Homo sapiens: one gene and its partners. The protein of the gene in region 1 purifies or fractionates together with the protein of each later gene. This does not show direct contact. Each region holds a gene or a part of one and is shown in the gene's direction. Other genes may lie near its edges.

What was found.
Region 2: the proteins of POLD1 (region 1) and UPF1 purify together in Homo sapiens (affinity purification with western blotting; one study listed by BioGRID). This does not show direct contact.
Region 3: the proteins of POLD1 (region 1) and MMS19 purify together in Homo sapiens (affinity purification with western blotting; 3 studies listed by BioGRID and IntAct, with this or other methods). This does not show direct contact.
Region 4: the proteins of POLD1 (region 1) and UPF3B purify together in Homo sapiens (affinity purification with mass spectrometry, with the first as the bait; one large-scale study listed by BioGRID). This does not show direct contact.
Region 5: the proteins of POLD1 (region 1) and NOP14 purify together in Homo sapiens (affinity purification with mass spectrometry, with the first as the bait; one large-scale study listed by BioGRID). This does not show direct contact.
Region 6: the proteins of POLD1 (region 1) and ATF2 purify together in Homo sapiens (co-immunoprecipitation; one large-scale study listed by IntAct). This does not show direct contact.
Region 7: the proteins of POLD1 (region 1) and TBC1D2 fractionate together in Homo sapiens (co-fractionation; one large-scale study listed by BioGRID). This does not show direct contact.

What each region holds. Positions count from the first base shown.
Region 1 is NC_000019.10:50,404,321-50,408,691, forward strand, and holds part of POLD1 (DNA polymerase delta catalytic subunit), read left to right. Parts: intron 1-1,861; coding exon 1,862-2,002; intron 2,003-2,086; coding exon 2,087-2,197; intron 2,198-2,662; coding exon 2,663-2,854; intron 2,855-3,006; coding exon 3,007-3,095; intron 3,096-4,371. UniProt on the Homo sapiens protein: As the catalytic component of the trimeric (Pol-delta3 complex) and tetrameric DNA polymerase delta complexes (Pol-delta4 complex), plays a crucial role in high fidelity genome replication, including in lagging strand synthesis, and repair.
Region 2 is NC_000019.10:18,855,569-18,859,939, forward strand, and holds part of UPF1 (regulator of nonsense transcripts 1), read left to right. Parts: intron 1-356; coding exon 357-521; intron 522-617; coding exon 618-732; intron 733-1,308; coding exon 1,309-1,452; intron 1,453-1,751; coding exon 1,752-1,965; intron 1,966-4,371. UniProt on the Homo sapiens protein: RNA-dependent helicase required for nonsense-mediated decay (NMD) of aberrant mRNAs containing premature stop codons and modulates the expression level of normal mRNAs.
Region 3 is NC_000010.11:97,487,997-97,492,367, reverse strand, and holds part of MMS19 (MMS19 nucleotide excision repair protein homolog), read left to right. Parts: intron 1-4,371. UniProt on the Homo sapiens protein: Key component of the cytosolic iron-sulfur protein assembly (CIA) complex, a multiprotein complex that mediates the incorporation of iron-sulfur cluster into apoproteins specifically involved in DNA metabolism and genomic integrity.
Region 4 is NC_000023.11:119,835,387-119,839,757, reverse strand, and holds part of UPF3B (regulator of nonsense transcripts 3B), read left to right. Parts: intron 1-1,230; coding exon 1,231-1,391; intron 1,392-1,706; coding exon 1,707-2,001; intron 2,002-4,371. UniProt on the Homo sapiens protein: Involved in nonsense-mediated decay (NMD) of mRNAs containing premature stop codons by associating with the nuclear exon junction complex (EJC) and serving as link between the EJC core and NMD machinery.
Region 5 is NC_000004.12:2,942,585-2,946,955, reverse strand, and holds part of NOP14 (nucleolar protein 14), read left to right. Parts: exon of another isoform or gene 1-83; intron 84-408; coding exon 409-544; intron 545-1,726; coding exon 1,727-1,828; intron 1,829-2,729; coding exon 2,730-2,883; intron 2,884-4,371. UniProt on the Homo sapiens protein: Involved in nucleolar processing of pre-18S ribosomal RNA. Has a role in the nuclear export of 40S pre-ribosomal subunit to the cytoplasm.
Region 6 is NC_000002.12:175,077,236-175,081,606, reverse strand, and holds part of ATF2 (cyclic AMP-dependent transcription factor ATF-2), read left to right. Parts: intron 1-841; coding exon 842-947; intron 948-4,371. UniProt on the Homo sapiens protein: Transcriptional activator which regulates the transcription of various genes, including those involved in anti-apoptosis, cell growth, and DNA damage response.
Region 7 is NC_000009.12:98,200,635-98,204,074, reverse strand, and holds part of TBC1D2 (TBC1 domain family member 2A), read left to right. Parts: intron 1-647; coding exon of another isoform or gene 648-666; coding exon 667-787; intron 788-2,410; coding exon 2,411-2,596; intron 2,597-3,440. UniProt on the Homo sapiens protein: Acts as a GTPase-activating protein for RAB7A. Signal effector acting as a linker between RAC1 and RAB7A, leading to RAB7A inactivation and subsequent inhibition of cadherin degradation and reduced cell-cell adhesion.

The sequences.
Region 1 (4,371 bases):
GGCGCAATCTTGGCTCACTGCAAACTCCGCCTCCCAGGTTCATGCCATTCTCCTGCCTCAGCCTCCCAAGTAGCTGGGACTACAGGCGCCCGCCACCACGCCTGGCTAATTTTTTGTGTTTTTAGTAGAGACGGGGTTTCACTGTGTTAGCGAGGATGGTCTTGATCTCCTGACCTTGTGATCCGTCTGCCTCGGCCTCCCAAAGTGTTGGGATTATAGGCGTGAGCTACTGCACCCAACCCCTTTTCTCTTTCTTTTTTTTTTTTTTTTTTTTTTGAGACAGAGTCTCGCTGTGTCGCCCAGGCTGGAGTGCGATGGCACGATCGAGGCTCACTGCAACCTCCACCTCCCAGGTTCAAGCGATTCTCCTGCCTCAGCCTCCCAAGTAGCTGGGATTACAGGCGTGAGCCACCACGCCCCGCAAATTTTTGCTTTTTTGTTATTGTTTCTTGAGATGGAATTTCGCTCTTGTTGCCCAGGCTGGAGTGCAATGGCACGATCTTGGCTCACCACAACCTCCGCCTCCCAGGGGGCGCTGGGGTGTAGAAGTGATTCTCCTGCCTCAGCCTCCCAAGTAGCTGGGATTATAGGCACCCGCTTCCATGCCCGACTAATTTTGTATTTTTAGTAGACAGGGTTTCTCCATGTTGGCCAGGCTGGTCTCGAACTCCCAATCTCAGGTGATCTGCCCACTTCGGCCTCCCAAAGTGCTGGGATTACAGGCGTGAGCCACCGCGCCTGGCCTATTTTTGTTTTTGTTTTTGTTTTTTTTAGCAGAGACTAGGTTTCATCATGTTGGCCAGGCTGGTCTCCATCCTCACCTCAGGTGATCTGCCCACCTCAGCCTCTCAAAGTGCTGGGATTACAGGTGTGAGCCAGTGCACCTAGCCCACATGTCCTCTTTGTGTAGTGACACCGTCGTGAGGTGAGGGCCCACCCCAGTGACCTCATCTTCACTTGACCCCCTGCGAAGACATATTTCCAAATGAGGTTACATTCTGAGGTGCCGGGGGTTAGGGCTTCAACATCTTTTGGGAGAACATGGTTCAGCCCTTAATGAGATATATTGCCTTATTTTCCTGCTTTTCTCTATGTCTGGCCAGCTTGGTAATGGAAAAACAAAACAGGCTGGGTGTGGTGGCTCACGCCTCTAATCCCAGCACTTTGGGAGGATGAGGCGAGAGGATCGATGGAGCCCAGGAGTTCAAGACCAGCCAGGGCAACATAGCAAGACCCTGCCTCTATTAAAGAGAAAACAAGAAAAAATCCATTCTAAAATACAGAACAAACTCTTAGGACCCCCAGTGTATATTCCACAGCGTGGCGCTGATGCCCGGGCCATGGTACTCCTCCTCCCCTTCCCTGGGTGTCCCTCACCCTCTGCCCTGTCCCCAGCTCAGGCTTCTTCTGGCCTCAGTCTCCCCCAGGCTGGGCCCCAGCACCCTGCAAGGCCTCCTGCAGCCAGGCGCCCTCCAGCGCCCTCAGCATCCATCTCAGCCCAGCTCCACGCCGCCTCCTGCCTCTGCCCCCACCTGGCCGCCTGCTCACAGTGTCCCCAAATCTCTTCCTGTTTCCTGCCTAGGTACAGCCCGCAGACACTGGGCTCCATCCTTGGCCCCCAGTCCATCAGGGCCCCTGACTCTCGCTATCCCAGCCTTGGCTGCAGCTTAGTCCTTACTCCGGACTCCCTCCCCAGTCTCCAGCCACCCACACCCAGCCCCAGACCGTCTTTCTGCCCCCAGGGTTGCTCTCGACCCCCTAGGGTTGTTATAAGGATGTTGTGGTTGGTCTCAATCTCCGTTCTTCAGGCTTATGTGACGGGGACCCGCAGCCTGCTGCACACCCTGCCTCTCCTCCTCAGGTACAAACATTCCCTTTCCTGGGCCGTGTGGCCGGCCTTTGCTCCAACATCCGGGACTCTTCATTCCAGTCCAAGCAGACGGGCCGGCGGGACACCAAGGTTGTCAGCATGGTGGGCCGCGTGCAGATGGACATGCTGCAGGTATGGGCGGGAGGTGGGGTGTGTCCCTGTCCTTGGAAGGCCACTGCCCAGGCCCGCAGCCCACCAGCCCACCCACCCACCTAGGTGCTGCTGCGGGAGTACAAGCTCCGCTCCTACACGCTCAATGCCGTGAGCTTCCACTTCCTGGGCGAGCAGAAGGAGGACGTGCAGCACAGCATCATCACCGACCTGCAGGTGCCTGCTGCCTCCCTGACCTCTCACCCCAACCTCTGACCTCCACCTCACCCTTCCCCGGCCTCTGACCTCAACTTCACGCCCCCACGTCTGACCTCACTCTTTGACCTGCTGTTATGACCTGTGACCTTACCTGACGCCCACTTTTTCCTGACCTCTGACCCCAGATTTCTCTCCACTCCTGTGACCTCTGTCACTATGACCTTGTCTCTGCTTTCCTGGCCTGACCACAGGTCCACGGTGGCCTTCAGGCTGCTCCCTCCTCCTCCCTCTGGCCCTGTGGACTCCCTGGCCCCCAACCCTACCTCCATCCCCACCCAGACCCTGACGACTTGGAGGGCCCTCCTGCCCGCCTCACCTCCCAGGCCCTCCCCAGGCTACCTCACCCTGACCCCCACTTCCTTCTCCTGCTCCACCTCCCACCCCCAACCCCTGGTCCCTGACCCCATCCGTGCCCATCCCCAGAATGGGAACGACCAGACCCGCCGCCGCCTGGCTGTGTACTGCCTGAAGGATGCCTACCTGCCACTGCGGCTGCTGGAGCGGCTCATGGTGCTGGTGAACGCCGTGGAGATGGCGAGGGTCACTGGCGTGCCCCTCAGCTACCTGCTCAGTCGTGGCCAGCAGGTCAAGGTCGTATCCCAGCTGTTGCGGCAGGTCAGTAGCCGAGACTTGTCCTCGCCACCCCCCACCAGGCACGTCTGTGGCCCCCTCCAGGCAATGGCATCCTGGATGCACTTTTTCTCCCCACTCCCAATCCGCACGGCCCCACCTATACCCACTCCATTTCCCACCTTCTCCCCTCCCAGGCCATGCACGAGGGGCTGCTGATGCCCGTGGTGAAGTCAGAGGGCGGCGAGGACTACACGGGAGCCACTGTCATCGAGCCCCTCAAAGGGTGAGGCCCCAGGCTGGGTGCAGTTTTTACCTGTAATCTCTGGGAGGCTGAGGTGGGAGGATCACTTGAGCTCAGGAGTTTGAGACCAGCCAGGGCAACATAGCGAGGCCCCTGCTCCACAAAATTTTTTTATTTTTATTTATTTTTATTTTTATTTTTTTGAGACAGAGTCTCGCTCTGTCACCCAGGCTGGAGTGCAGTGGCGCAATCTCAGCTCACTGCAAGCTTTGCCTCCCGGGTTCACGCCATTCTCCTACCTCAGTCTCCACAGCAGCTGGGACTACAGGCGCCCACCACCACGCCTGGCTAATTTTTTTTTTTTTTTTTTTTTTTGCATTTTTAGTAGGGACGGGGTTTCACCGTGTTAGCCAGGATGGTCTCGATCTGACCTCGTGATCCACCTGCCTCGGCCTCCCAAAGTGCTGGGATTATAGGCGTGAGCCACCGTGCCCGGCCGAAAAAATTTTTAAAAATTAGCCAGGCGTGGTGGTGCATGCCTGTAATCCCAGCTACTTGGGAGGCTGAGCTGGGAGGATGATGAGCCCAGGAGGTGGAGGCTGCAGTGAGCGATGATTGCGCCACTGCCCTCCAGCCTGGGCGACAGAGCAACACCCCGGCCCTAAAATAAATTAATAGGCCAGGCACGGTGGCTCACCCCTGTAATCAATCCCAGCACTTTGGGAGGTCAAGGCAGGCGGATCACAAGTTCAGGAGATTGGGACCATCCTGGCTAACACGGTGAAACCCCGTCTCTACTAAAAATACAGAAATTAGCTGGGCATGGTGGCGGGCGCCTGCAGTGCCAGCTACTCGGGAGGCTGAGGCAGAAGAATCGCTTGAACCCGGGAGGTGGAGGTTGCAGTGAGCTGAGATTGCGCCACTGCACTCCAGCCTGGGTGACAAAGCGAGACTCCGTCTCAAAAAAAATAAAATAAAATAAAATAGTAGATTAATTATATATATTATTTTTCTTTTTCTTTTTCTTTTTTTGACACAGGGTCTCACTCTGTCACCCAGGGTGGAGTGCGGTGGCATGATCTTGGCTTACTCCACCTCCTAGGCTCAAGCAATCCTCCTGCCTCAGGCCCCTGAGTAGCTGGGACCACAGGCGTGCACCACCACACCTGGCTAATTTTTAAAATTTTTTTGTAGAGATAGGGTTTTGCCATGTTGCCCAGGCTGATCTGAAACTCCTGAGTTCAAGCGATCCTCCTGCCTCAGCCTCCCAATGTGCTGGGATTGCAGGAGCGAGCACTGCTCCCAGCCAATGAATGAT
Region 2 (4,371 bases), about 32 Mb from region 1:
AGCTGTGAAGCCTGGGCTGTCTGGATCTGAGCTCCTTCGGCATCGTGTCATTACTGCCTGTTAAAAATGTCAGGAGTTTAAGGCCAGCCTGAACAGGGTGAGACGTCTCTACAAAAAAAAAATTCAGAAATTAGCTGGGGGTAGTGGCGTGCACCTGTGGTCCCAGCTACTCAGGAGGCTGAGGTGGGAGGATTGCTTGAGCCCAGGATGTTGAGGCTGCAATTAGCTGAGATCACACCACTGCACTCCAGCCTGGGCAACAGAGCAAGACCCTGTCTCAAAAAACAGAGTCTTGGCTTACTACGTTCACCGAGCTTCCTCTGGGTAAGCACTGAGCTGCCCCAATGGTGTTGCAGGCCGGTGCTGGTGTGTGCTCCGAGCAACATCGCCGTGGACCAGCTAACGGAGAAGATCCACCAGACGGGGCTAAAGGTCGTGCGCCTCTGCGCCAAGAGCCGTGAGGCCATCGACTCCCCGGTGTCTTTTCTGGCCCTGCACAACCAGATCAGGAACATGGACAGGTGTGTGTCGAGTCCATCCCTCCCAGTTGGTCCCTGAGCTTCTGCGGGTGACATGTACAGAACTCAGGCACCCTGCTGACCTGCATGTGCTTCCAGCATGCCTGAGCTGCAGAAGCTGCAGCAGCTGAAAGACGAGACTGGGGAGCTGTCGTCTGCCGACGAGAAGCGGTACCGGGCCTTGAAGCGCACCGCAGAGAGAGAGCTGCTGATGGTGAGTGCCCCTCCTGCCTGCAAAAGGGCCTGTGGGCTGGCGGCCTGATGGTTTTTGTTTGGGCCAAAGCACCTATTTGAATTGTTGCTTTGCTTCTGGAAAGAGAACTTAGATGCTCTCTACTTGGCCTCTCTGCGCTCAGTTGTACAGTAAATTAGGGACATCTCGCTGCCTGGAACACGGTCTTCTAGGGAGTCTCCACTCCCTGCCAGCCTCCACTGGGATCCGGCAGTGGATCTAGAACACTCCTGCTCTTTCATAACCAACCAGCCTGAACTGGAATCAGCCTGAGTGCAGGTTCCAGCAGCTCAGCACTGCCCCTTGGAGGCTGTCGTGAGGCGCAGAGCTCTTGGTGTGGAGAGGTTGCCTTCTGTGAAACATGACCGTTTAAGGATCTTAAAAGTTTGTAATCACCACAGCCTGGACCATGTATCTTGTCTGGGAGGGACAGCTTGTTTTTTATAGTGTCAGGGAGGGTGAGAAACAGGAGAGCTTCTGTGTTCTGTCCCACCTGCCCTCCGGGGTCTGGTGGCGTTTACAGTGCAGGTGCCCTGATGCCTCTGCACCCTTCCCCAGAACGCAGATGTCATCTGCTGCACATGTGTGGGCGCCGGTGACCCGAGGCTGGCCAAGATGCAGTTCCGCTCCATTTTAATCGACGAAAGCACCCAGGCCACCGAGCCGGAGTGCATGGTTCCCGTGGTCCTCGGGGCCAAGCAGGTGGGCTGCCTCCCCTGCCCTCCTGTGTGAAAACTCGTGTGTGTGATTCTTGGTGTTTGTCTTTTAAAACACCTTGTATTGACGTAGGATGCCCAGCAGAGTGTGCGCACACTGGGGGCTCCCTGAGGGGTTTATAGAGGGTGGGTTCTGCCAGCTGCACGTCCAGTGTGCGTGGTGAGCAATGCCCCTGTGGCCAGGTGGTGTCCTGTGCATCCTGGGGCCCCTACTTCCTTGCTAGTGTGTGTTGAGGCTGATTCACACCTGAGCTTCTTGACTTGTGGGGGCCCCTGTTCCTACAGCTGATCCTTGTAGGCGACCACTGCCAGCTGGGCCCAGTGGTGATGTGCAAGAAGGCGGCCAAGGCCGGGCTGTCACAGTCGCTCTTCGAGCGCCTGGTGGTGCTGGGCATCCGGCCCATCCGCCTGCAGGTCCAGTACCGGATGCACCCTGCACTCAGCGCCTTCCCATCCAACATCTTCTACGAGGGCTCCCTCCAGAATGGTGTCACTGCAGGTAACGGGGCTCTGCCCAGGGCAGGGGCTTCTACAGAGAAGCGGCATCAAGGGAATGTGGACTGGGGAGAAGGAACTGGCCCATCAGCTTCCCCTGAGCGGCTTCACATAGCCACTGCTTGAGGTCAGGGCACTTTGTGCCCAAGGTCTTGATGGTATGGTCTTGGATCAAGTGGTGTCTCTGGGGCATGTGGGGAGCCTGTGTCCTCTGTAAAACTCAGTCATTGCCTGAGAATTCATCCAAGCCTCATGTGGCAGCATGCACAGCAGCCAGGACAGGCTGTTAGGGGAGCTGAGCCCGGGCCTTAACGTGGGCTGTGCATTCAGTGCTTCATGAAGAACAGCTGTTCTCAGGGCCTGGGCCCCTGGGGCCCGCAAGACCGTGTCCGGCTTCCCTGGATAACACAGAGGCCTCACCTGCCCTTTTTCACTCTGCTGACGCTCACACTGCTGGTGACCCCCTGGTGCTTCTGCAAGAGTCAGCCCAGAGCAGCCAGACTGTGCCCGGATCACAGTAAGAAACGCCCTGGATGAGGAAGTGAACAGTACATCTTACTAAGCCTCGAGTGTTTCACTGTGACCAGATAAAATTTCTCGTGACACCTTTGGGTATGCCGGCGCTTGAAGGAAGTCCTTGTGGACACACCCTGGGTATTCACCCCAAGGTGTTGGGCAGACTTTTTCCAAAAATGATCGAACCTGTCGCTTCATGGAGAACTAGTGGCAACATCTGTTACAGTAGTAAAATTCAAGTGAAAACCAGAATTTTGGAAAACTTAACGTCGCTTGCCATGAGCTTGGTGTCTTCCCAACACCTAGAGACTTTTCTGGTGAGGTCTGTGGGGGTGACAGATGGAATGTTTCCACCATTGCCAGTGAAATGTGTCAGCCTTTGGAAGACCTACTTGACTCGGTGGGAGATCCTTCCTGAATGACCAGCAGAGTGTCACGAAGTCACATGGGGATGGAGTGGCAAAGAGTTGTCACAGGCCTGCAGAAACCCACCTTTGTCCAGCTTGATGTGGCCTCAGGGCTGGAGACTCCCAGCCATGCAGAAAGGCTGTAAAAACAAACCCATCTCCCTTTCCAGCCTCAGGCATCCATGAGGCCTGGCTTCCCCACAGCGTCCCCAGAGCCCAGGAGGGTGGACTGAGCAGAGGTGGACCCCAGGGCCCAGCTGCCTCCGATTCAGCCAGATAGTAAGGAGATTTGCAGAAATGGGAGACAGGACCACTCTTCTTACTTAGCTTATTTTTGGAGAAATAACTAACACGTAATGGGTTATTTTTAAATGAATTAATATATTTTTTAAATTTCCAAGTTTAGAGAATACAGTTATCCAATAAACAAAAGCTGTTTGGACTCCCTAACTTTTGAGAGTGTAAAGGGTCCTGAAAGCTGCCGACACAGCGCCTCATGAACTCCAAACCTGTGAGGTTGGTATTGTCAGGCCTAGTTACAGGAGAAAGTGAGGCTCAGAGCCCACCCCCCGGGTTGGGCCACACCACTCTTTGCCTAGCGGTAGGTCTTGGGAGTTGATGCCACTATTGACATCGCAGGGACACCGCTGTTCCCAGCGCATGGCAAGGCTGAAAACACAAGGCCACAGAGACCTAGCTTGTGCTCTGGGGTGTCTGAGCACTGGCTGGGAAAGGCGTGGCTCGGCGCAGGCTCAGACCCCTCATGGTCCCCAGGGCATCGGCCCAGAGGGCAGACGCTGGTGCACACTGCTCTCTAATTGATGCACAGCACGTAGTTCACACCCAGGAAGTACATTTTAGGAAATTCTCTATTGAAGTGTAAACATGTGGCCACATTACAAGTGTCTGGCTCAATGAGTGGTTACTAAGTGAGCATATTTGGATAGCCAGCACCTGAACCCAGAACCACCTGACCAGCTGTGAGAAGCCGCCTCATCCCTGCAGGTGGCCACTGTCCAGGGGTGCGCATCCACAGCAGCCCCTGGGCTGAGGGACTTCTGAGCTCATCCGGCGGCCCCTGTGCTCGCTGTAACAGCAGTGATCCACTTGGCCTCATTTTCAGCTCGACGTGGGATCATATGATGTGTCCTGGCGTGTCTGGCTTCCTCTGTCCATGTCAGGCTGGTGCTGTGCAAAAACACCGGTTTTCTCCACTGATGGAAGCTCCCAGTAGAGTGAGGAGGGCACCTGTGAATTGAGAAACTGGTTTTACAGTTTTAAGGAAACGCAACAGGGCCCAGAAAAGCCAAGATGAGCATGAAGAGCCCGAAGAAAGTGGCTGCTCACATGGCAGGACGCCCCGGCCCCCAAGCTGCAGTGTTGGGCCCCGGCCCAGGAGGGAGCCCAGAGGCAGAGCCACCGGTCAACAGGCCCTCAGCAGGAATGGACAAGGCTGCAGGGCAGGGGGACACTGTTGGCTCAACAGT
Region 3 (4,371 bases), on another chromosome or scaffold:
AAGTAGCTGGGACTACAGGCGCCCGCCACCACGCCCAGCTAATATTTTTGTATTTTTTTTTAGTAGAGACAGGGTTTCACTGTGTTAACCAGGATGGTCTCAATCTCCTGACCTCGTGATCCGCCCGCCTCGGCCTCCCAAAGTGCTGGGATTACAGGCGTGAACCACCGCGCCCGGCCTCATTTTTCTCTAATTTTTTCTACTTTTATACTTTTTTTTTTTTTTTTTTTTAGATTGAGTTTCACTCTGTAGCCCAGGCTGGAGTGCAATGGCATGATCTCAGCTCATTGCAAACTCTGCCTCCCAGGTTCAGGTGATTCTCCTGCCTCAGCCTTCGGAGTAGCTAGGATTACAGGCATGCGCTACCACACCCGGCTAGTTTTTGTGTTAGTAGAGACAGGTTTTTGCCACGTTGGCCAGACTGGTCTCAAACTCCTGACCTGAGGTGATCCACCCACCTCGGCCTCCCAGAGTACTAGGATTACTGGCATGAGCCACCGTGCCCGGCCTTATAGTCACTTTTATGTTTGTGCTGCATTAATTCAAGAATTTTGTGAAAGCTATATGAAGACTAAAGGGCTTTGCCAGGAGAGTTCACCCACATACTGGGATTCAAGGAACCACATGCAAATGGCTATTTATTTGTAATTATAAAGCAGCCATTTTCATATTAATGTATGCAGAATGCCAAAGAAGCATTTTTCTTTTTTTTTCTTTGAGACGGAGTCTCGCTCTATCGCCCAGGCGTGATTTCGGCTCACTGCAACCTCTGCCTCCCAGGTTCAAGCAATTCTTCTGCCTCAGTCTCCTGAGTAGCTGGGACTACAGGCGCATGCCACTACACCCAGCTAATTTTTTAATTTTTGGTAGAGATGGGGTTTCACCATATTGGCCAGACTGGTCTCGATCTCCTGACCTCATGATCCACCCACCTCGTCCTCCCAGAGTGCTGGGATTATAGGCGTGAGCCACCACGCCCGGCCTTTACCTCAATTTTTTTAAAAAAATGAAAAAATAGAAGGTACTGAATGGGCCCTATTTGGCACTTCTTGTCTTAGAGCCTTCGTTCCAAATATAGACCCTAGCCTGACATCCACAGAGGGTTTTGATGGTATTGCTGAAGAAAAATGATTCAGTTCATTGATATCCTTTGCTATTAACAGTTGTTAGTCCCCTATGGCTTCATCTGTACAATTATTAACTCCTTCTGTGCCCATTATTGAAATTAGTTTTTAGATGGGTTGTTTCAGCAGAGTTTTCTGTACTATAGCCAGGCTGTTCCAAGAAAGTACCCTTTTCTACCTTCCCAAATGTTGCAATGCCCTTTTGTGGTTCGTAACCCAGAAATAGGTGTTTCAGTTCATGTAAGTGTTGCCATTAAGGAATTGGGTATAGAACCCAACTTGGTTTGTTTGGCCTGTTAGTCTGGCTGCTACCCCTTCCCCCACCCTTACAGTCTGCTCATTTTTTCCCTTGGCTCTTTCTCAGGAGCTGGGGCAGCAGCTGGGCCTTCCACATCCTGGCACAAGTGGGCTAAGAGTGCCTGATGTCTAAATTGGTGCCAGTCACGAGCTATAAGTCCTAACTAGAGCTCTCATTTTCCTCAGTCTCATTGGACGACTTCTTACTGTGGTGCTAGAGTGAGCCTCTGCCCAGGTCAGCTCATAACTGTTGCTGTGAGACCACAGACTTTAGGAGAACTGGAAGTTTAGGATTTCTTCAGACCTCTCTTTCACTTTTTCCAGCATTGGCACAAGCTGACTAGTTAAGGTTCTGCATTTAGAGGTAGGTGGATTAGGAACCCAGAACAGGCTGCTGGAAGTAATTCTCTGGTTGTCACACCTTATTTAGCTATAAGTGTTCAATGTGAACCAAAGCCTTATGAAGATTGTTAGCCTTTTACCCTGTTTCTCCCTTGAAAATACATTCTAAGATGCTTCTCTTCAATATATGTGAGTTACTATTGTGCTGCTAAAATTGCATTTAAAGGCCAGGTGCAGTGGCTCACATCTGTAGTCCCAGCACTTTGAGAGGTCAAGGTGGGTGGATCACTTGAGCCCAGGAATTTGAGACCAGCCTGGGCAACATGGCAAAACCCTGTCCCTACAAAAAAATACAAAAATTAGGCGGGCATGGTGGTGCATGCCTGTAGTCCCAGCTACTCGGGAGGCTGAGGTGAGAGGATCACTTGAGCCTGGGAAGTCGAGGCTGCAGTGAGCCATGATTGTACTACTGCACAGAGCTAGACCCTGCCTCAAAAAAAAAATCCAAATAATATAGGTAGATACTCCTCCCTCCAGGAGGTGGAGTTTAATCTTCCCCTCCCCACTGAATGTGAGCTGGACTTAATGAATACCTTACAAATAAAAGAGTACCAGAAAGAGAAAAGTAGTAACTATAGTGCAGAGACCTGGCAGACATACCTTAACCAAGTGATAAACATTAACATTGCCAGTGATGGAGAAGCCATGTTACTATCTTATATCCCTGATATGATATGTTGAGAAGGGTACTTCACCTCTGTGATATTCTTTTTTAAAACCCATAACCCCAGTCTAAACATGAGGGAAACATCAAACAAATGCAAATTGGGGAACCTTCTATAAAGTACTTCTTTAAAACTATCAAGGTCATGAAAAACAAGGAAAGACTAAGAAACTTTCACAGACCAGGAGAGACTAAGAATTCAAGATGACTAACTGCAATTTGGTATTCTTAATTGGATCCTGGAACAGAAATTTGGCATTAGTGGAGAAACTATTGAAATCTGAATAAAGCCTAGAGTTTAGTTAATAGTGTGTATCAGTGCTAACCTAATCTCTTAGTTTTGACACTCGTACATAGTTTCACAGATGTGTGCCATGTAAGACGTTAACATTAAGAGAAACCGAGTGATGGCTATACGGGAACTCCGCACTGTCATTGCAACTTTGCTATAAATGTAAAATTATTCCAAAATGAAATATTTCTTTTAAAACAATAGTCTACCTCTCAACCCTTAACTATGCATTTTCCCTCCCTGAAGGCAACAAATGTTATTAGTTCCTTTTATATCTTCCAGAGATGTAAATAAATGCAAATAAAAACAATCCCCCCTCCCTTTAAAAACAATGCTACGCACATATTATATACACTGTTTATACACACTGTTATTTTAGATCTTGACTCATTATCAGTATATATGTAGCTTCAGTCTTTCTTCATTTGTCTTTTTAAAAGTAGCTACAGGCCCGGTGTGTTGGCTCATGTCTGTAATCTCAGCACTTTGGGAGGCCAAGGCAGGCGGATCACTTGAGCTCAGGAGTTCGAGACCAGCCATAGGCAACATGGCAAAAGCCCCATCTCTACTAAAAATACAATCCAGCCTGGGCAACAGAGCAGGATGCTGTCTCAAAAAATAAAAATAAAAAAGATTAAAAAATAAATAAAAGTAGCTACAGAGAATTCCATTGTATGGATGTACTATAATTCATTTAACTGGTTTCTTATTGATGGGCATGTGTTGTTTGCAGTCATTTACTGTTACGAATAATGCTGTATTGAATAACGTTATACATGCATTATTTTGCACTTTCACAGTACAGTTAGCCCTCCATATCTGTGTGTTCTGCATCCTTGATTCAAGCAACTGCAGGTCAAAAGTATTTGGGGGAAAAAATAGCAACTGTACCAAACATGTATAGACTTTTTTCCTGTCATTATTCACTAAACAATACAATGTAACAACTATTTGCGTAGCACTTAGATTGTATTAAGTATTATGAGTAATCTAGAGATGATTTAAAGTATACAGGAGAGTGTCCATAGTTTGTATGCAAATACTCTTACCATTTTATATAAGGGTCTTGAGCATCCACAGATTTTAGTATCCTCAGGAGGTCCTGGAGCCAGTCTCTCATGTATATACCAAAAGATGACTAGATAGCTAGAGGATAAACTTCTAGCTTTCCTGGGTTAAAGCCTATATGTACCTGGAATTCTAAAGATGTTATATTGCCCTCAATATAGGGTTGCACCAGTTTATAATCCTACCTACAATGTTTAAGAATGTCTGTTTCTGAATATCATGACCAAACATAATATATTGCTAAGTTTTTTGTCTTTGCCAGTCTGTTAGATTTTCTTAAAAAGTTTCTGTGTAGTTTAATTTACATCTTTTATTGTAAATATGGTTGAGCACCTTTTCGTACATACTTGTAGTTCCTTTTATGTGGAATGCCTGTTCATTTTTTTGTTTTTGCCCATTTTGTTTTTTTAATTTTATTTATTTATTTATTTTGAGACAGATCGTCACTCTGTCACCCAGGCTGGAGTGCAGTGGCACGATCTCGGCTCACTGCAACCTCTGCCTCCCGGAATCAAGTGATTCTT
Region 4 (4,371 bases), on another chromosome or scaffold:
GCACATGGTATCCTCATTTTACACTGGTGCCTTCTCAGTGTCCATTTTGGACTCACCATTTGCAGTGGCTGTCTGTGTGCCAAAATGCTTTGTGCTTATGTCTTGTGGTGCTTTGCCTTTTGCTTAGTAATTTACATGATGCCTTCACCCTGAGATGAACCTTGTGTGATACCTTCACTCTGAGACTTGAAATTCTTCTATTTTGCCTAAGAATCTCTCTGATTATCCGACACTTGGAGGTATTCTCGAGAGATTCATAGCAGCAATGTAAAAAACAATGGCATTTTTGAACATGCGTAAATATGGCATTAAATACAGAGTTCCTACTCAGTAGAGATGGAACTTCACTATTTGGTTGTATAAGGCCTTTAGATTTTTAAATCAAATGCCAAATAATTCTTGTTATTAATCTCTAATGGCAAGATAATTGTACCATCATAAGTATGTTATTCTCAGGCTCAAGGCAAAATTATTCCTGCAATGGATCTCTCCTTTGGTGACCAAGGTATTTGTCATTCCAAGTACTACATAAAAACAGTCCCAACAGAAACGATCTGCCTATCACTTAAAATTTGTGGGCTGTTTCCCATTAAGTTATATCAACATGCTGGTTTGCTACAGAAGCATACTTTGAAGTATGCATTGGTTCACTTAAAGGTTGACCCATTTAAAGCCAAAGGAAGCCGGGCACAGTGGCTCACACCTGTAATCTCAGCACTGTGGGAGGCCGAGGCAGAAGGATGGTGTGAGCCCAGAAGTTTGAGAACAGCCTGGGTGACATGATGAGACCTTGTCTCTACAAAAAAATTAAAAAATTAGCCATATGTGGTGGTGTGCATCTGTTGTCCTAGCTACTCAAGAGGCTGAGGCAGGAGGACCACTTAAGCCCAGGAGGTCAAGGTTGCGGTGAGCCATGTTCATGCCACTGCACTCCAGCATGGGCAACAGAGTAGTGAGACCCTGCCTCAGAATAAAAGCCAAAGGAGTCTTGATCCTATTGCCACAAAGTGATTAAACCACTTCGTTCAAGTGGATAACACTTTAACATTAATAGCATCCTTTTAGTAAATTACTACTCTTATGCACTAGTTGTTCACCTGAAAGATTAAGTGTACCTGCAGAGATAGGGGGCTTTGTCTAGTCTAAATTTTAAATATTTGGTATACTGGGTTTTTAATAGAAGATAGTGTCCCAGCCTTCAAAATAAAAATAAACATTTTATCTTTAAAGCTGCTCAAGAAGCCAGAAAAAGGAGATGAAAAAGAATTGGACAAAAGAGAAAAAGCCAAGAAATTGGACAAAGAGAATCTCAGTGATGAAAGAGCCAGTGGGCAAAGTTGTACATTGCCCAAGCGTTCTGATAGCGAACTTAAAGATGAAAAACCAAAGAGGTCAGTAGTCAAGGACTCTTTGTTATGTTTGATTTATACATGCTAGTTTTGCTGCTATGTCCTGGACATGTACCTGAATTAAGATAAGCTGTTTTATGCAGGGCAGGGGGATGAGGAGGAACAGTTTCAGAATATTCTTGTATCTTAATCTGGGTGAATGGTTTTGGGGTTTTGTTCCTTCTTAAAACACTAGTATTTTTCACTCTGCTCTAAAAGTGCAACCTCATTGCAGGGGCCAAATCAGAATCACAGTGTTCCTGCATTTGTGATTACAAGATCTTTCAGGGTTCTGTCTCAGATTTGTTTTTCATGCAGACCTGAAGATGAGAGCGGCAGAGACTATAGGGAGAGGGAACGGGAATATGAACGAGATCAGGAGCGCATACTTCGAGAAAGAGAGAGGCTGAAGCGGCAAGAAGAAGAGCGCCGTAGGCAGAAGGAGCGCTATGAGAAAGAGAAGACTTTTAAGAGAAAAGAAGAAGAAATGAAAAAAGAGAAAGACACACTTCGGGATAAAGGAAAGAAGGCTGAAAGTACAGAATCAATAGGCAGCTCAGAAAAAACTGAAAAGAAAGAAGAAGTGGTCAAGAGAGATCGAATAAGAAACAAGGTGCTGCTTGTCATTAAACTTGTTTATGAGGGTTTTTTTCCCTTTTCCTGCAAGTGTAAAGAAAGTGTAAAGGGCACTGTTATTATAGAATTTTTAAAGGGGAACTTTAATCATCTGCAACTTTTTTTTTTTTTTTTTTTTGAGACAGAGTCTGACTATGTTGCCCAGGCTGGAGTGCAGTGGCACAATCTCGGCTCACTGCAAGCTCCGCCTCCTGGGTTCACGCCATTCTTCTGCTTCAGCCTCCCAAGTAGCTGGGACTACAGGCGCCCACCACCACGCCTGACTTATTTTTTTGTATTTTTAGTAGAGACAGGGTTTCACCGTGTTAGCCAGGATGGTCTTGATCTCCTGACCTCGTGATCCACCTGCCTCAGCCTCCCAAAGTGCTGGGATTACAGGCGTGAGCCACCACGCCTGACCAACTTTTATTTCAGTCTTGGCTGGGCTTTTATTAACTTACTATAGAAATTGTAAACATACACAAAAGTAGAATAGAGAATAGTATGATGGGCCAGGTGCAGTGGCTCACACCTGTAATCCTAGCACTTTGGGAGGCTGAGGTGGGTGGATTGCTAGAGCCTAGGAGTTCTAGACCAGCCTGGCCAACATGGTGAAACCCCGTCTCTACTAAAAATACAAAAAATCGGCTGGATGTGGTGGCGCACACCTGTAATCTCAGCTACTCGGGAGGCTGAGGCAGAAGAATCACTTGAACCTGGGAGGTGGAGGTTGAGGTGAGCCGAGATCACGCCATTGTATTCTAGCCTGGGCAACAGAGCGAGACTCAGTCTCAAAAAAAAAACTGGCCGGGCGCGGTGGCTCACGCCTGTAATCCCAGCACTTTGGGAGGCCAAGACGGGTGGATCACGAGGTCAGGAGATCAAGACCATCCTGGCTAACATGGTGAAACCCCATCTCTACTAAAAATACAAAAAATTAGCCAGGCGTGGTGGCGGGCGCCTGTAGTCCCAGCTACTCGGGAGGCTGAGGCAGGAAAATGGCGTGAACCTGGGAGGCGGAGCTTGCAGTGAGCCGAGATCGCGTCACTGCACTCCAGCACGGGCAACAGAGCGAGACTCTGTCTCAAAAAAAAAAAAAAAATCGAATAGTATGATGAACTCCATGTACTGTACCCATCACCCAGCAGTTCATAGCCAACCTTCTTTCTATTCTACTTCATCCCTACCCCTACTAGATTATTTTCAAACAAACCCTGCACATAATTTCTTCCTTAAATACTTCAGTATATGAGATAAATACTCTATTAATATTACCCTAGTAGCATTTTCACACCAAAAAAAACTAACAATAATTCCTTAACGTCCTGTCTATTCAGTGTTCATATGTTCCCAATTGCTTCATTAATGTCTTTTTAAAATTAATTAATTATTTATTTTTTGCGATGGAGTCTCGCTCTGTCATCTAGGCTGGAGTGCAGTGGCATGATCTCAGCTCACCACAACCTCCACCTCCCGGGTTCAAGTGATTCTCCTGCCTCAGCCTCCCGAATAGCTGAGACTACAGCCTCAAGCCACCATGCCCGGCTAATTTTTGTATTTTTAGTAGAGACAGGGTTTCACCATGTTGGCCAGGCTGGTCTCGAACTCCTGACCTCAGGTGATCCTCCCGCCTCAGCCTCCCAAAGTGCTGGGATTACAGGCATGAGCCACCGTGCCCAGCCTAATGTCTTTTTTTTAATAGGACCTAAACAAATTCCACAAATTATGCTTCCTTGAAATGTCTTCTTCAGTTCTCTTTTGTTTTTAGTTTATTTTTTGAGACAGAGTCTTGCTATGTCACCCAGGCTGGAGTGCCGTGGTACAATCTCAGCTCACTGTAGCCTCGACCTCCTGGGCTTAAGCCATCCCCCTACCTCAGCCTCCAGAGTAGCTGGGACTACAGGCATGCATCACCATGCCCAGCTAATTTTTAAGTTTTTTTGTAGAGATGAGGTCTCCCTATGTTGCTCAGGCTGGTCTCAAACTTTTGAGCTCAGCCGATCCCCTCAAAGTATTGGGAATAAAGGTATGAGCCACTGCACCCAGCCAAGTTTTCTTTTAATCTAAACAATTTCCCCTTCTCTTGTTTTCCTACCATTTGTTGCAGAAACCAATTTGTCTTGTAGGGCTTTTCCTGTTCTGAATTGGCAGATTACATCCCCATGCTGTTATTTAACGTGTTCCTCTGTCTTCTGTGCTTCCTTTAAAACTGGCACTTAGGGCCTGGCATGATGGCTCATGCCTGTAATCCCAACAATTTGGGAGGCCAAGTCAGGAGGATCACTTAAGCCCAAGAGTTGGAAAGCAGCCTGGGCAACATAGGGAGAGCTTGTTTGTACTAACAATGTAAAAACAGCCCAGTGTGGTA
Region 5 (4,371 bases), on another chromosome or scaffold:
GTGCACACCAGCTTCCTGCCCTGTGCCGCGCGGAGCTCTCCACGTCATCTTCTGCATGCATGGAGGCACTATCAAAGAAGTACCTGTCGTGAGGAATAAATGAGTTAATATGGAAAGTGCCTTGGAGCTGTCAGCTGCAGCTGCCACACAGAGTGGTGCCCCCAACAACGTCTGTACCACAAATCGAGCTGTTTCTCCCACCACCTCCAGTCCATAATGTTATGGCCGAGTTTTTAGGAAATGGCAGAAGTGAGTGTAGACTCTTAAGAATGCTGTTAGAAAAAGCGGATTCATCCAGTTCTTACTTGCTCAGTCAACAGGTGACTGCATAGGAAAGTGGCTTGCAGGGCTTTTCTGTGTTTCTTATCTAAAGTCATTCTCTCCTGACTTTACATTTCTGCTTAACAGGCACTTATATCATCTTTGCCAGATGTTTCCTGAATCTGCAAGTGACGCTATCAAATTTGTTCTCCGAGATGCGATGCATGAGATGGAAGAAATGATTGAGACCAAAGGCCGGGCGGCATTGCCAGGGTTGGATGTGGTAAGCAGAGTTCAGTCTAGGCACTGCCCCTGCCACAGAAGTTCTGTTTGGCATCACAGAAGGTGGACGACGGGTACGATGCTCTTGGCTGTACCCTGTGCTTCCAGGGTGATGTGGAGTGAGCTGCACGGCAGCGAGGGTGATCTGGAGTGAGAGTGCACGGCAGTGAGGGTGATCTGGAGTGAGAGTGCACGGCAGTGAGGGTGATCTGGAGAGTGCACGGCAGTGAGGGTGATCTGGAGAGTGCACGGCAGTGAGGGTGATCTGGAGTGAGTGCACGGCAGCGAGGGTGATCTGGAGTGAGAGTGCACGGCAGTGAGGGTGATCTGGAGTGAGAGTGCACGGCAGTGAGGGTGATCTGGAGTGAGAGTGCACGGCAGTGAGGGTGATCTGGAGTGAGAGTGCACGGCAGTGAGGGTGATCTGGAGTGAGAGTGCACGGCAGTGAGGGTGATCTGGAGTGAGAGTGCACGGCAGTGAGGGTGATCTGGAGTGAGAGTGCACGGCAGCGAGCCTGGGAGGGGAGGGCACTCCTCCACTAGCCATGGACTAACGTGTGGGTCGTGCAGGGAGATTCTGGTTTGATTCCACGTGAATGGTGCTGTATTTGGTCCAGTGACAAAAACATTGGAAGGCAAATAGAACCACGGTATTGTCCTTAAGGGCCCAAGCCTGTGGGCTGGTTTAAATTGGTCTCGGTTTCTATGTTATTCAAAGGTTGGGAGACATTTGTACGCTGAGATTTTTAACAATTTTATAACAGCCTCATGCTGTATTTTCAGCTTTAGTAACTTTAAGGAAATACTTGCTGAGATACGCTCTTTATTCTGTTGCCTGGTGTTTGTGTTGAAATGGATTCACAATAGTTAGCAGAAGCTTAAAAATGTAGGACTTAGGTTAGTGATTTTTAATCAACTCCCCAAAACATGATCTGAGCCCGTGTCTATAACCATTGTTGACTGCTTTGAAGTCTTCATGGGCCTCAGTGTCCTCACTGCACGTTTAGCTGGTTGACCCACGGTGGTTGGACGCCTGTTCTGTGACACTGAGGCCAGAGCTCTGGGCCAAGGAGATGCACCCTCTCCTCGCCAGATCCTGTTCTTGGCTCCGGAGTGTTTGCGGGGAGGGCATATGGATGGACTTCATTTACCTTCTTTAACCTGTGGTAACACTTTCTTTCCAGCTCATTTATTTGAAAATCACTGGGCTGCTATTTCCAACTTCCGACTTCTGGCACCCAGTGGTGACCCCTGCCCTCGTGTGCCTCAGTCAGCTGCTCACCAAGGTGCGTTCTCTCCACATGCGGCAGGGGTCGGCCTGCTGCACCACGGGTGGCCGGAGCCACAGCCCCTCGGGGCCTTGTGGAACATGAGTGTGGCTGTTTAAGGGCTGCAGAGACCGAGCACTGCGGTTAGGCCAAAGAGGGCCCATCTAAAAGAGCCCCGGCTCGAGCAGCCCCAGATGTGGGTGGGAGTGGGAGGGCCTGGTTTGGCACCTCAAGGTTACAGATGGTGCTACCCCAGAAAACAACCTTTCAAGTTAGTGGTGAAGTTATCCAGTGTGATGATAAGGGCTTTTGTTCCCTTTTTGGCTTAAAAAGTTCAAGCTGTTCCTTTTTCTTTATTAGGCATGTGATTGGTACATGCTTAGTGCAGTAATCGTACGCTCTGTATGGGTGGAAGGAACTTTATAATCAGTATAGCTCTGGCCAGGCGCGGTGGCTCACGCCTGTAATCCCAGCACTTTCGGAGGCTGAGGCGGGCGGATCACCTGAGGTCGGGAGTTCAAGACCAGTGTGGCCAACATGGCGAAACCCCGTCTCTACTAAAAATACAAAAATTAGCTGGGTGTGGTGCCACATGCCTGTAATCCCAGCTACTCGGGAGACTGAGGCAGGAAAATCACTTGAACCCGGGAGGTGGAGGTTGCAGTGAGCCGAGATTGTGCCATTGCACTCCAGCCTGGGTGGTAAGAGTGAAACTCCGTCTCGGGAAAAAAAAATCACTAAAGCTCTTTATCTTGTTTTCATCTCATTTGATGCTCTCGACACTGCTATAAGGTGCGGGGGTTCCCTCTGTACTTGTGAAGCTCAGTGGGGTGCGTGGTTCATCAGGGAAGCCCGGTGGTCGGCCTAGCATGGCATGACATCGTCCCAGGACAGTAACCCCCCATATGTTCCTTTCCAGTGCCCCATCCTGTCCCTCCAGGACGTGGTGAAGGGCCTGTTCGTGTGCTGCCTGTTCCTGGAGTATGTGGCTTTGTCCCAGAGGTTTATACCTGAGCTTATTAATTTTCTTCTTGGGATTCTTTACATAGCAACTCCAAACAAAGCAAGCCAAGGTGAGTTGATTTGAGGGAGGTTCCTACAAATATGTTATACTTTAGAATTTTTTTAAGTAGTTCATACTCATTGTAGAAAGTTTAGAATATGCGAAAGTAGAGGAAACACACAACCTGCCACCCGCCGCACTGTCTGTCCCTCTGTGTGAGCGTGTGCACGCGCCACATGGGGAAAAGCAGTGCTACCGGTGACCTGTGCTGTCCAGCGTGGTTGCCAGGGGCCAGAGTCTGAACTGAGACGTACCCTACCTGTGACATATGCCCAAGTGGCGAAGACTTAGTGTCAGAAATACTTAAAATATCTTAATTTTTTGTATTATGTGTTAAAATCATAATATTTTGGTATTTGGGGTTAGATAAGGTCTATTGTTAAAATCAATCTTAACTTTTTACTTTTTCTCACGTGACGACAAGGCAGTGTGAAAGTTCTCGTGCAGCTCACACAGGCCGCGCTGCTGTGTCGCTTCTCTTAACGCTCTGAATTCAGGAGCGAGGGCGGCAAGAGCAGTGTTGGGATGAGGAGCAGTCTGCACACTGGCTGCCCTCCTGGGCCCTCACCCCAGCCCCTGTGCTCCTCCCCCTTCCCCTGATGCCAGCCCTGCTCCTGGATGCTTCCTCAGCACTTGCTGCTTCCCTCTGGGGGGTGAGGAGCTGCACAGCCTCTTCCTGAGCTCTTCCATGTCTGTGGACGCCTCTCCCAGCCTGACCAGAGGTTGGACCTCAAGGCTCAGACCCCTGTCCTCTATTTCCAGCTCACCGTGCAGTGCTAAGCGCCTGCATGTCCAGGGGACTGACCTGAGGAGCAGGTGCTGTGGCATCATTCACACCACCAGCAGAGTCCCTTCCAAGAGGGGTCTGGCCCACTCTTCCGGTTCAGTGCTCCCATTCTGCCACCACCTGCCTCCCAAGGCTCCTGTCTGTCAGGCTCGGTGCTGGGCGCCAGAGGGGCGCGGCCGCCCACATGCTCCCTGCCTCCGGGAGAGCCACCTGTAGATAGCTGCAGTCCCACGTGTGAAGGGCTGTGACGGAACAGGCTGGGCACAGGTGGAGTCAAGGAAGGGGTGGGCATCTCGGCTTTGGGGAAGTGTGGGGCGGGGCCTGACCCACGCCTTCCCCTCTCGCTTGGCCCGGCACCTCTGCCCCACTGTACCCACTCTCCACCCCTCCCCGTGTAGCCACACCCTCGGCCTGGATTGCCCTTCTCCGTGGCGAGTGAATTGACTCCTGCGTCCTACAGGCCTTTGCTGACGTCTGCCCCTCAGGCCTCTCCCGCCCTCCACCGTCACCCCCGACTGACTCTCCTGTCTCCCTCCTGCCCCTCCACTTTCCTTTCTCGTGTTCTGTCTGGTCCATTTGCTCCTCTGGGTGCTGTGCACTGCCTGTCTCCCCGACAGGGGCAGGGACTTCAGTCTGTTCCCGGATGTGGCCTGAGCGCCTCATCAGCCCCATGTGTGCCTAGTAGGCCCCAGGAAGTCTGTGGCCAGCAGG
Region 6 (4,371 bases), on another chromosome or scaffold:
GTATTTGTAAGCTAAGAATTTTTTATATTACCAGTTTATTAAATTCATATTATTTCTAACTCTTGAGTATTGGTAATGATCACTGACTTACGTGTTTTTAATATTCGGGGTGACTCAAAGGAATTAGTCGGACTTGCTCAATTTGGAACTTTTTACCAGATTAATGTATCCCAAACAATGGCTGAAGTACTCATTCTGAAGATTAGGACAAATCTCCATTGACTTAGCAGATTTAAATTTAGATGTGTACAAATTGCCTGGGTCAAAGGCAGCTAAGCCATTTAAATGTTATATCTAGTTTCATTGGTTTCAGTGTCCAGCAAGAGTGCCTTGCAGTGAATTTTAGGTATCCATGATTCTTTGGTTATTTTGGTTTCCCCTGTGGAGCTTTTCTTGGTTTCTAGGAAACTGGAAACTTGCTTATTTGAATTTCTAGGATGATTTTTTTCATTTTTAGGTGAATGGAATCAGTGAAAATTCATCCTGACTCCCTTGATGTTTCTTTTTAAATAATCAGAAGAGCATGCAACATATATAAAATAAAAATACTTTCAACAGGTCACCAATAATATATAAGAAGTCCCAGGGAAATGGAAACAATTTTGAAATATGCTATCCAGCTGTGGCATTATCTTAAATTTTTATTCAAGTTACAGCTTTTTAATAAATGCTAAAATATAAAAGCTGCCCTGTGCTGATTAGACATATTTAATCAGCATATTTTCTTTGTTTTTAATGTTCTGCCAGTGATGTCCAATTTTATACTTTAATCCTTGCTTGTTTTAAATAGTAAAAAATATGTTTAGTCTGTGGTAAGGTACATAAGTTGTTTCTTCTCCAGAGTGAAGTCACCCTGCTGAGAAATGAAGTGGCACAGCTGAAACAGCTTCTTCTGGCTCATAAAGATTGCCCTGTAACCGCCATGCAGAAGAAATCTGGCTATCATAGTGAGTAATGTTCCATTACCTATAGCCTTAGGCTACGTCAGTGAAATACCGTCAGAGTGAACTGAGCTGCTACTTTAAAAATGGAGACTGTGCTTCTAATATTCAAGATTAAATATCAGAATTTCTGTAAGGTTATTATAGAATGCAGTAGAGAGGTATAATTTTTTAGAATCTAGAGAGTTTGAGTTTTCCTGTTTCTAGCTTTTTTCCTAAGCGTTACTATAGATCAACAAAATGGATTAGCTAATAATTTAAAATATACTGTAAGTACTTGATGATATTTTGTTCATCTTCTCAGGATAACACTTTGTCTTAGATTGACAGGGTGAAACACTACTTTTTTCCCAGCCTCCGTTCATTAATGATGATATTTTTCTTTTTAAAATCAGCTGACTGCCTTTAACAATATATGATATCCCTTTAAGGTATCAGATCCTATTGTTCTTTCTTAGATAATGTCAGCATTGTGTAACGTTTTTATTGTTGTAAACCTTTATATTGAGATATCTAGTTAGTTTATAAAAATGTTAAAACGGGAACAGTAGTTAAATTATCTGCTTGTAAATTTCCTGCTAAATGTTTTCCCAAAGAATGAGATTCTTTTGTTTTCAGCATTTTAAAGGTTAATTGTGCCTTTTCCTTTTTGTAATGTCCTTCTTTTTTGATAAGATGCACAGTGTTGGAACCAGCTGTTACTCTTGAATAAATGGCCAATTTTGTCCATAGTATACAAATTTGTAACAAACAACAGAGTTGGGAATGCATTAGGCAACATTTATAATATATAACCCACAGTTTTAGTCTTTATGATTTAGTGATATTTCAGGATATTAGTAAATGTGAAGATTGTTTCAACCATATGTATCCACTTCATTTTAATTTGCCAGTGTCAGTAATTCAAAAGAAAGAAACATTTTGTATTGGATGCAAACAGTTCCTCAGGTGCTCACGATAAAACTTAATGGCCACCATCTTTACTTGTAGTCATTATAAGCAGTTTCATCAGAATGGGCAATATTTTTTAATTTAAAAGATTCCGTAGATTTAGCTACTCTCAATTGCCATATATATTTAGAACGCTGATTTTTGTCAGTTTTGAGCATATAAATCTTGCTTATTTGATATCTAGTAATTTTGACAGGATGGTGAAACACATTGGAGTAAATTGGAACCATATAGAAATATGTTTGGGATTTATATTAACAATGATTGCTTCAGGGATGAGGCCATTATGGTTCCCATCTGACTTAACAACATAATTTCCTATAGAAGCTACTAGTTCAGCATTTATGCATACGTGATTTTCTTAACAAGAAATCTCTCTTGGATTTTCATAGTTTAAAAGGAAATAAATTGTTTTATAAAATTAAAAGGAAATTAACTGTTCTCTTAAATTGTATCCAATTCAGAATTACCTGTAATTTTTAAATCTTTGATAATTTATTAGATAATCCCAACAGTTTTGACTCTATTATCCAGGCAATGTATGCTCAGCAGATGCAAACCAGTTATTCATTTGACAATTGATTTACAAGATATCTTAAGTGTATAGATGCGTAGGTTTATATACTGTATACTTAAATGACTGAAAATCTAGATTAATACATTTTTAGTACATAGAGTACTAAGTTATGAGAATATAAGAAATGAATAGGATATGTTTGTTGTTTGGAAATAATCCTATCTTTATTCCTGTCTAGTCATGTAGATAATCAAATTAACTGAAATATAGTTCTACCATAAAATTAATTCTCTTCAGATCTTGGGAGATAATTGGATTTTGTAGAAATTTTCAGGTAATTTATATTTTCAAGTTTGAAATCTTTGAAATAAGTCTGACTTCTCTGTTGTGTAGTAGTAAAAATAGATACAGAAATTGACTAAGTGAATACCTTTGAAAAATTTACACTCTTCATTATGTTGTAGCACACAGCTCTTGCTAACAGTGGTGAGTTGTAATACTAGCTAAATCTTTAAAAACATTTGGGAATCAAAACTAAGATTTAGTAGAAATTAAGGAATGTTACAAAATCTTTCAAGTAAAGGTGGAAGTACTAAGTCACAGCCATAGGGTCTGTCCCGCCCAGTTTTAGCACTGAAAGTCCTACTTCCTAAGAAGACCCCTCAGTCGTGGGAAAACCATGACAGTTAGTCACCCCAACAGTTAAGTAATATAAAACCTGAATGAAAATACTAAGAGTACATTTTAAATATTTGGGTTCCATGAAAAATAAAGCACAAAAGTGATCTTATTGCCATGAATTCACATTCTTTAGATCTGGGCATAATTAAAGTTGTATTATAATTGTCTCTATAATTATAAATGGGAAGAAAAGCTTCTTGGGGACTAATCAACCACAAATACTTTTATTACTGAAAATATGTATAGGCCAGGCACTGTGGCTCATCCCTTGTAAGCCCAACACTTTGGGAGGCCAAGGCGGGAAGATTGTTTGAACCCATGAGTTCAAGACCAGTCTGGGTGAAATAGCGGGACCCCATCTCTACAAAAAATAAAGTTTAAAAAAGCCAGGCATTTTGGCACACACCTATAGTCCCAGCTACTTGGGAGGCTGAGGCAAGAGGATCACTTGAGCCCAAGAGTTCAAGGCTGCAGTGAGCTGTGATCGTGCCATAGCACTCCAGCCTGGGCGACAGGGAGACCCTATCTCAAATAAGGAAAAGAAACTTGTGGACATAGGTAGAGAACTTTCAAGATTACTGAATTGCCAAACAGCTGGTTTCTTTTAGCTTAGGTAGAGCTGGAAGTGGCTCTTTGAGTACAGCATGGTTTTCTGTATCTCTCTAGTGCTTGTGATTACACCAGTCATTTTCTCCCCTCACCTAGAACTGGACATAGGTGCAAATATATCACATTGTAAAGGTATTTGATGTGTATGTAAGGTTTATAATTACATAATTGTGAGTACCTGATTCTTTGTACTGCTTAAAGATTTGCTTTACCTAATTCTGAAAGTCTGTAGGTAAGCATTCATCCCTTATAATTTACTGTTTCATTTTAAGTTGTTGACTCCAGTATGTATTTACGTTTCCTTATACCACTCATCACAGATCAGCCTCTTTATTTTTAAAAGCTGGTGTGTCCCTTGAACTCAACATTCAGGGAAACGTCAGCCTGTTGTTCTTTTAAAGAATAGTGGTGAAGTTAGAATGGTGATCATTAAAAAGTCAGGAAACAACAGGTGCTGAAGAGGATGTGGAGAAATAGGAACACTTTTACACTGTTGGTGGGACTGTAAACTAGTTCAACCATTGTGGAAGTCAGTGTGGCGATTCCTCAGAGATCTTGAACTAGAAATACGATTTGACCCAGCCATCCCATTACTGGGTATATACCCAAAGGATTATAAATCATGCTGCTATAAAGGCACATGCAAATGTATGTTTATTGCAGCACTATTCA
Region 7 (3,440 bases), on another chromosome or scaffold:
ACCCATGATTTCATTAGAGCCTTATGCTAACTTGGCGGGGAGGGGAAGTAAAGGAGAAAAAAAGCTATGTGCATTGAGCACCTCCTAAATGCCAGGCAGTGAGCGAGGCAAGGTAGGTCTGTCTCAAGATGCCTCTTGGCCCCGGGGGGATAGATATTGTTAATCTCACTTTACAGATCATGAAACCAAGGCCCAGAGAGGTTAGTGTACTTGCCAAGGTCTCAAAGCCTGTGAATACTAAGGTGAGGATAGCTAACATTTATAAAGAGCTCACTGTGTGGCAGGCACTGTGTGGGGCACTGAATGAGCTCTGTTCATCCTCAAAATAGTCCTGTGATTATTATGAGACTGAGGCTTACAGGGGTTCAGTAACTTGCCCAAGGTCACCCAGGAAGCCACAAGATCAGGATTTACCCAAGCAGCCTGATTTCAGAGCCCCTGCTCTGAAGTGACCCCCATTGCTCTGGAAATCGCCGGTCATCCTCCCCAAAAGAGCGTTTATCTCACCCCAGGTGCCAGGAGCACAAATCTGGTTAGGGAGTGGGATTGCACTGATGCTCACATGGAAGGACTTTCCCCCTGGAACCCAGGAAGCCACCTCTGCCATGTGCTGCCTGGCAGGGCCACGGCTTCTGTAATCACTCCAGGCCTTCCCTACTACTCCAGGCTGGCGGCCATTGCCCTGCTGGTCCTAGAGGAGGAGGAGAGCGCCTTCTGGTGCCTGGTGGCCATTGTGGAGACCATCATGCCCGCTGATTACTACTGCAACACGCTGACGGCATCCCAGGTAAGTGGGGCCAGGAGGGGACTTTGCAGCCATGTAGGGCAGTGCCCCAGAGCTGTTCCTAGAAGCCTGTGACTCTCAGGAAAGTTGGGAATCTCTCGGGCTTCCATTTCTCCCTCTGCACTGTGGGAGTGCATTTGGCTGCATGGAAGAGAAGCCCAACCTAACAACAGCTTCAATCGGGGATTATTATTCTCAGATAGTGAATGACAAGGCAGTACCGCAGGGTTCAGGCTCCTAGCTCCCTGCTCTGCCATCTCTGGCAGGTGGCCTTCATCCTCACACCCATCACCTCCTGGTCACAAAATGGCTGCATCGCCTCCAGCACTGTGGGCATGGCCTAGGCCAGGAGAAGCAGAAGGTGAACACCAGGAGCTGGCTCCCTGACCCAGCAATTTCTACTTGCAGTTTACTGGTCAGAACTATTTCATGGCTGCCCTAGTTGCAAGGCAAGTTAGGAAATGTACATATTTAATTTTTACATCTTAACATCTCTGAAATTGATGTGTGTTATATGACCCTTTTTTCCATATTTTATTATGGAAAATTTCCCACATTCAAAACGATAGAGGGAATAGTATAATGAACCTCCATGTGTCCATTACCTGGCTTCAGTTATCAACCCAGGGAGCCAGTGTTATTTCTTCTGAACTCCCATCCGCTCCTCCTGCTTTGTCTTGAAGTAAATTTCTGGCATTGTATCAGTTCATCCATAAATCCTTCAGTAGGTCAATGGCATCTTAGACTTGGGGAGTTACCTTAGGTTTTGAACTGGACACTTGGCCTCGGTAGATGACCCAAGGTTCTGGGTGAGGGAGGAGGGGAGCTACTGGCTGTTTGCCACAGCTGACGCTAATGCCTGGAAGAGGACATAAGTGAGAGGAGAGGACTGAGCAGTTCCAGGAAAAGCAAGGGGAAACTGAAATGGAGTCATCACAGAGGGAGGAGGAGAACCACGAAAGAACCATGTCTTGGAGCCAGTGCTGAGAGTGGTTAACCCATCCAGTGAAACAAGGACGGAGGCATGACAGTGGTCACAAGAAGAGGTCACTGGCCAGTGTCGCCAGGAGCACCCTGTTTTGAGAAGATTCCTTGATGTCCGGCGAGGCAGGACATTATGCGTTCCCACACACACCTGTCCCTGGACCAGACATCCGCCTAGCATCTTAGGTGTCAGGCACAAATTGGGTATAGAGAAGGGGCTGTGGTTGTCAGCTGATATAAGCCTAGAGACAAAGCTTCCATTTCGCCAAGGCCCCTGGGCATGAGACCAGTGTCTCTGAACTGCCAGCAGGATCAGCTGGCCCCTGACCTCCTGCTTGGCTCAAGGGATTCAGATGGGTGAGCGGGCGGAGAACGTGCCAGCCCACATGGCTCCACTGCAGAGCCCAGTGCCCCAGTCCAGAGGACTCTGGCCTATATTAGGAGCAGCGGAGTGATATGATGCTGTACCTGACTCCCAGCTAGACTGGCCCCTGGCTCCCCGAGGTGTCTCCTGGGCAGGAAAGGACCTGCCCAGAGCAGCTTCAGGATTGTGTGTGGACTGACTGGGTAGGAAGGCTGGGCAGGGAGGGAGGCAGCCCTACGCTGGGGCTGCAGATGACAGGCCCTCTCGCTGGCTTCCAGGTGGACCAGCGGGTGCTCCAGGACCTGCTCTCGGAGAAGCTGCCCAGGCTGATGGCCCATCTGGGGCAGCACCACGTGGATCTCTCCCTCGTCACCTTCAACTGGTTCCTCGTGGTCTTTGCGGACAGTCTCATTAGCAACATCCTCCTTCGGGTCTGGGATGCCTTCCTGTACGAGGGGACGAAGGTAGGGTGCAGCCAGGGGATGGGCAGGGGGCCCCTGAGCAAGTCCCTTCACCCATCTGCGTCTTGACTCTGCCCCTGGAGAATGGGAAGACAATGCTTACTTGTCAGAGCTGTTGAACGTCTCCTGAGAGCATTGTCAACTGCAAAATGCTTTGCATGTATGAGAAGTAGTGGTTCTGCCTCTGAAGTTGGGGGATTTCCTTTCCGTGGAGAGGAGGTGTGAGCATGATCAGAGAGGCACATCCCTATGCTGTCCTTGCCCCCTAGTCACCTGGGCCCTCCTTTTCTTCCTCCTGTTTGGACTAAACCTTGGATTAAGAGATCGGAGCTCAGGTCTGGACCCAGCTCTGTACTGACCTTGCCCAGAGACCTTGGGCAGGTCCCCCAACTCAGCCCTAGTTTACACCTCAGTTTACAAAGCACCCACAGATTTCTCATTTCTTTCTTTCTTTTTTTTTTTTTTTGAGATGGAGCCTTGCTCTGTCACCAAGGCTGTAGTGCAGTGGCACGATCTCCGCTCACTGCAACCTCTGCCTCCCAGGTTCAAGCAGTTCTCCTGCCTCAACCTCCGGAGTAGCTGGGATTACAGGCATGCAACACCATACCTGGCTAATTTTTGTATTTTTAGTAGAGATGGGGTTTCATCATGTTGGCCAGGCTGGTCTCGAACTCCTGACCTCAGATGATCCACCCGTGTCAGCCTTCCAAAGTGCTGGAATTACTGGCATGAGCCACTGTGTCTGGCCTGTCATTTCATCTGGTTCTTGCCAAAGCCCCACGTAAAGATACAGATTAACTCCATGAGATTCAACAGGGGCCGTGCCTCACCCACAGTCATGGGACAA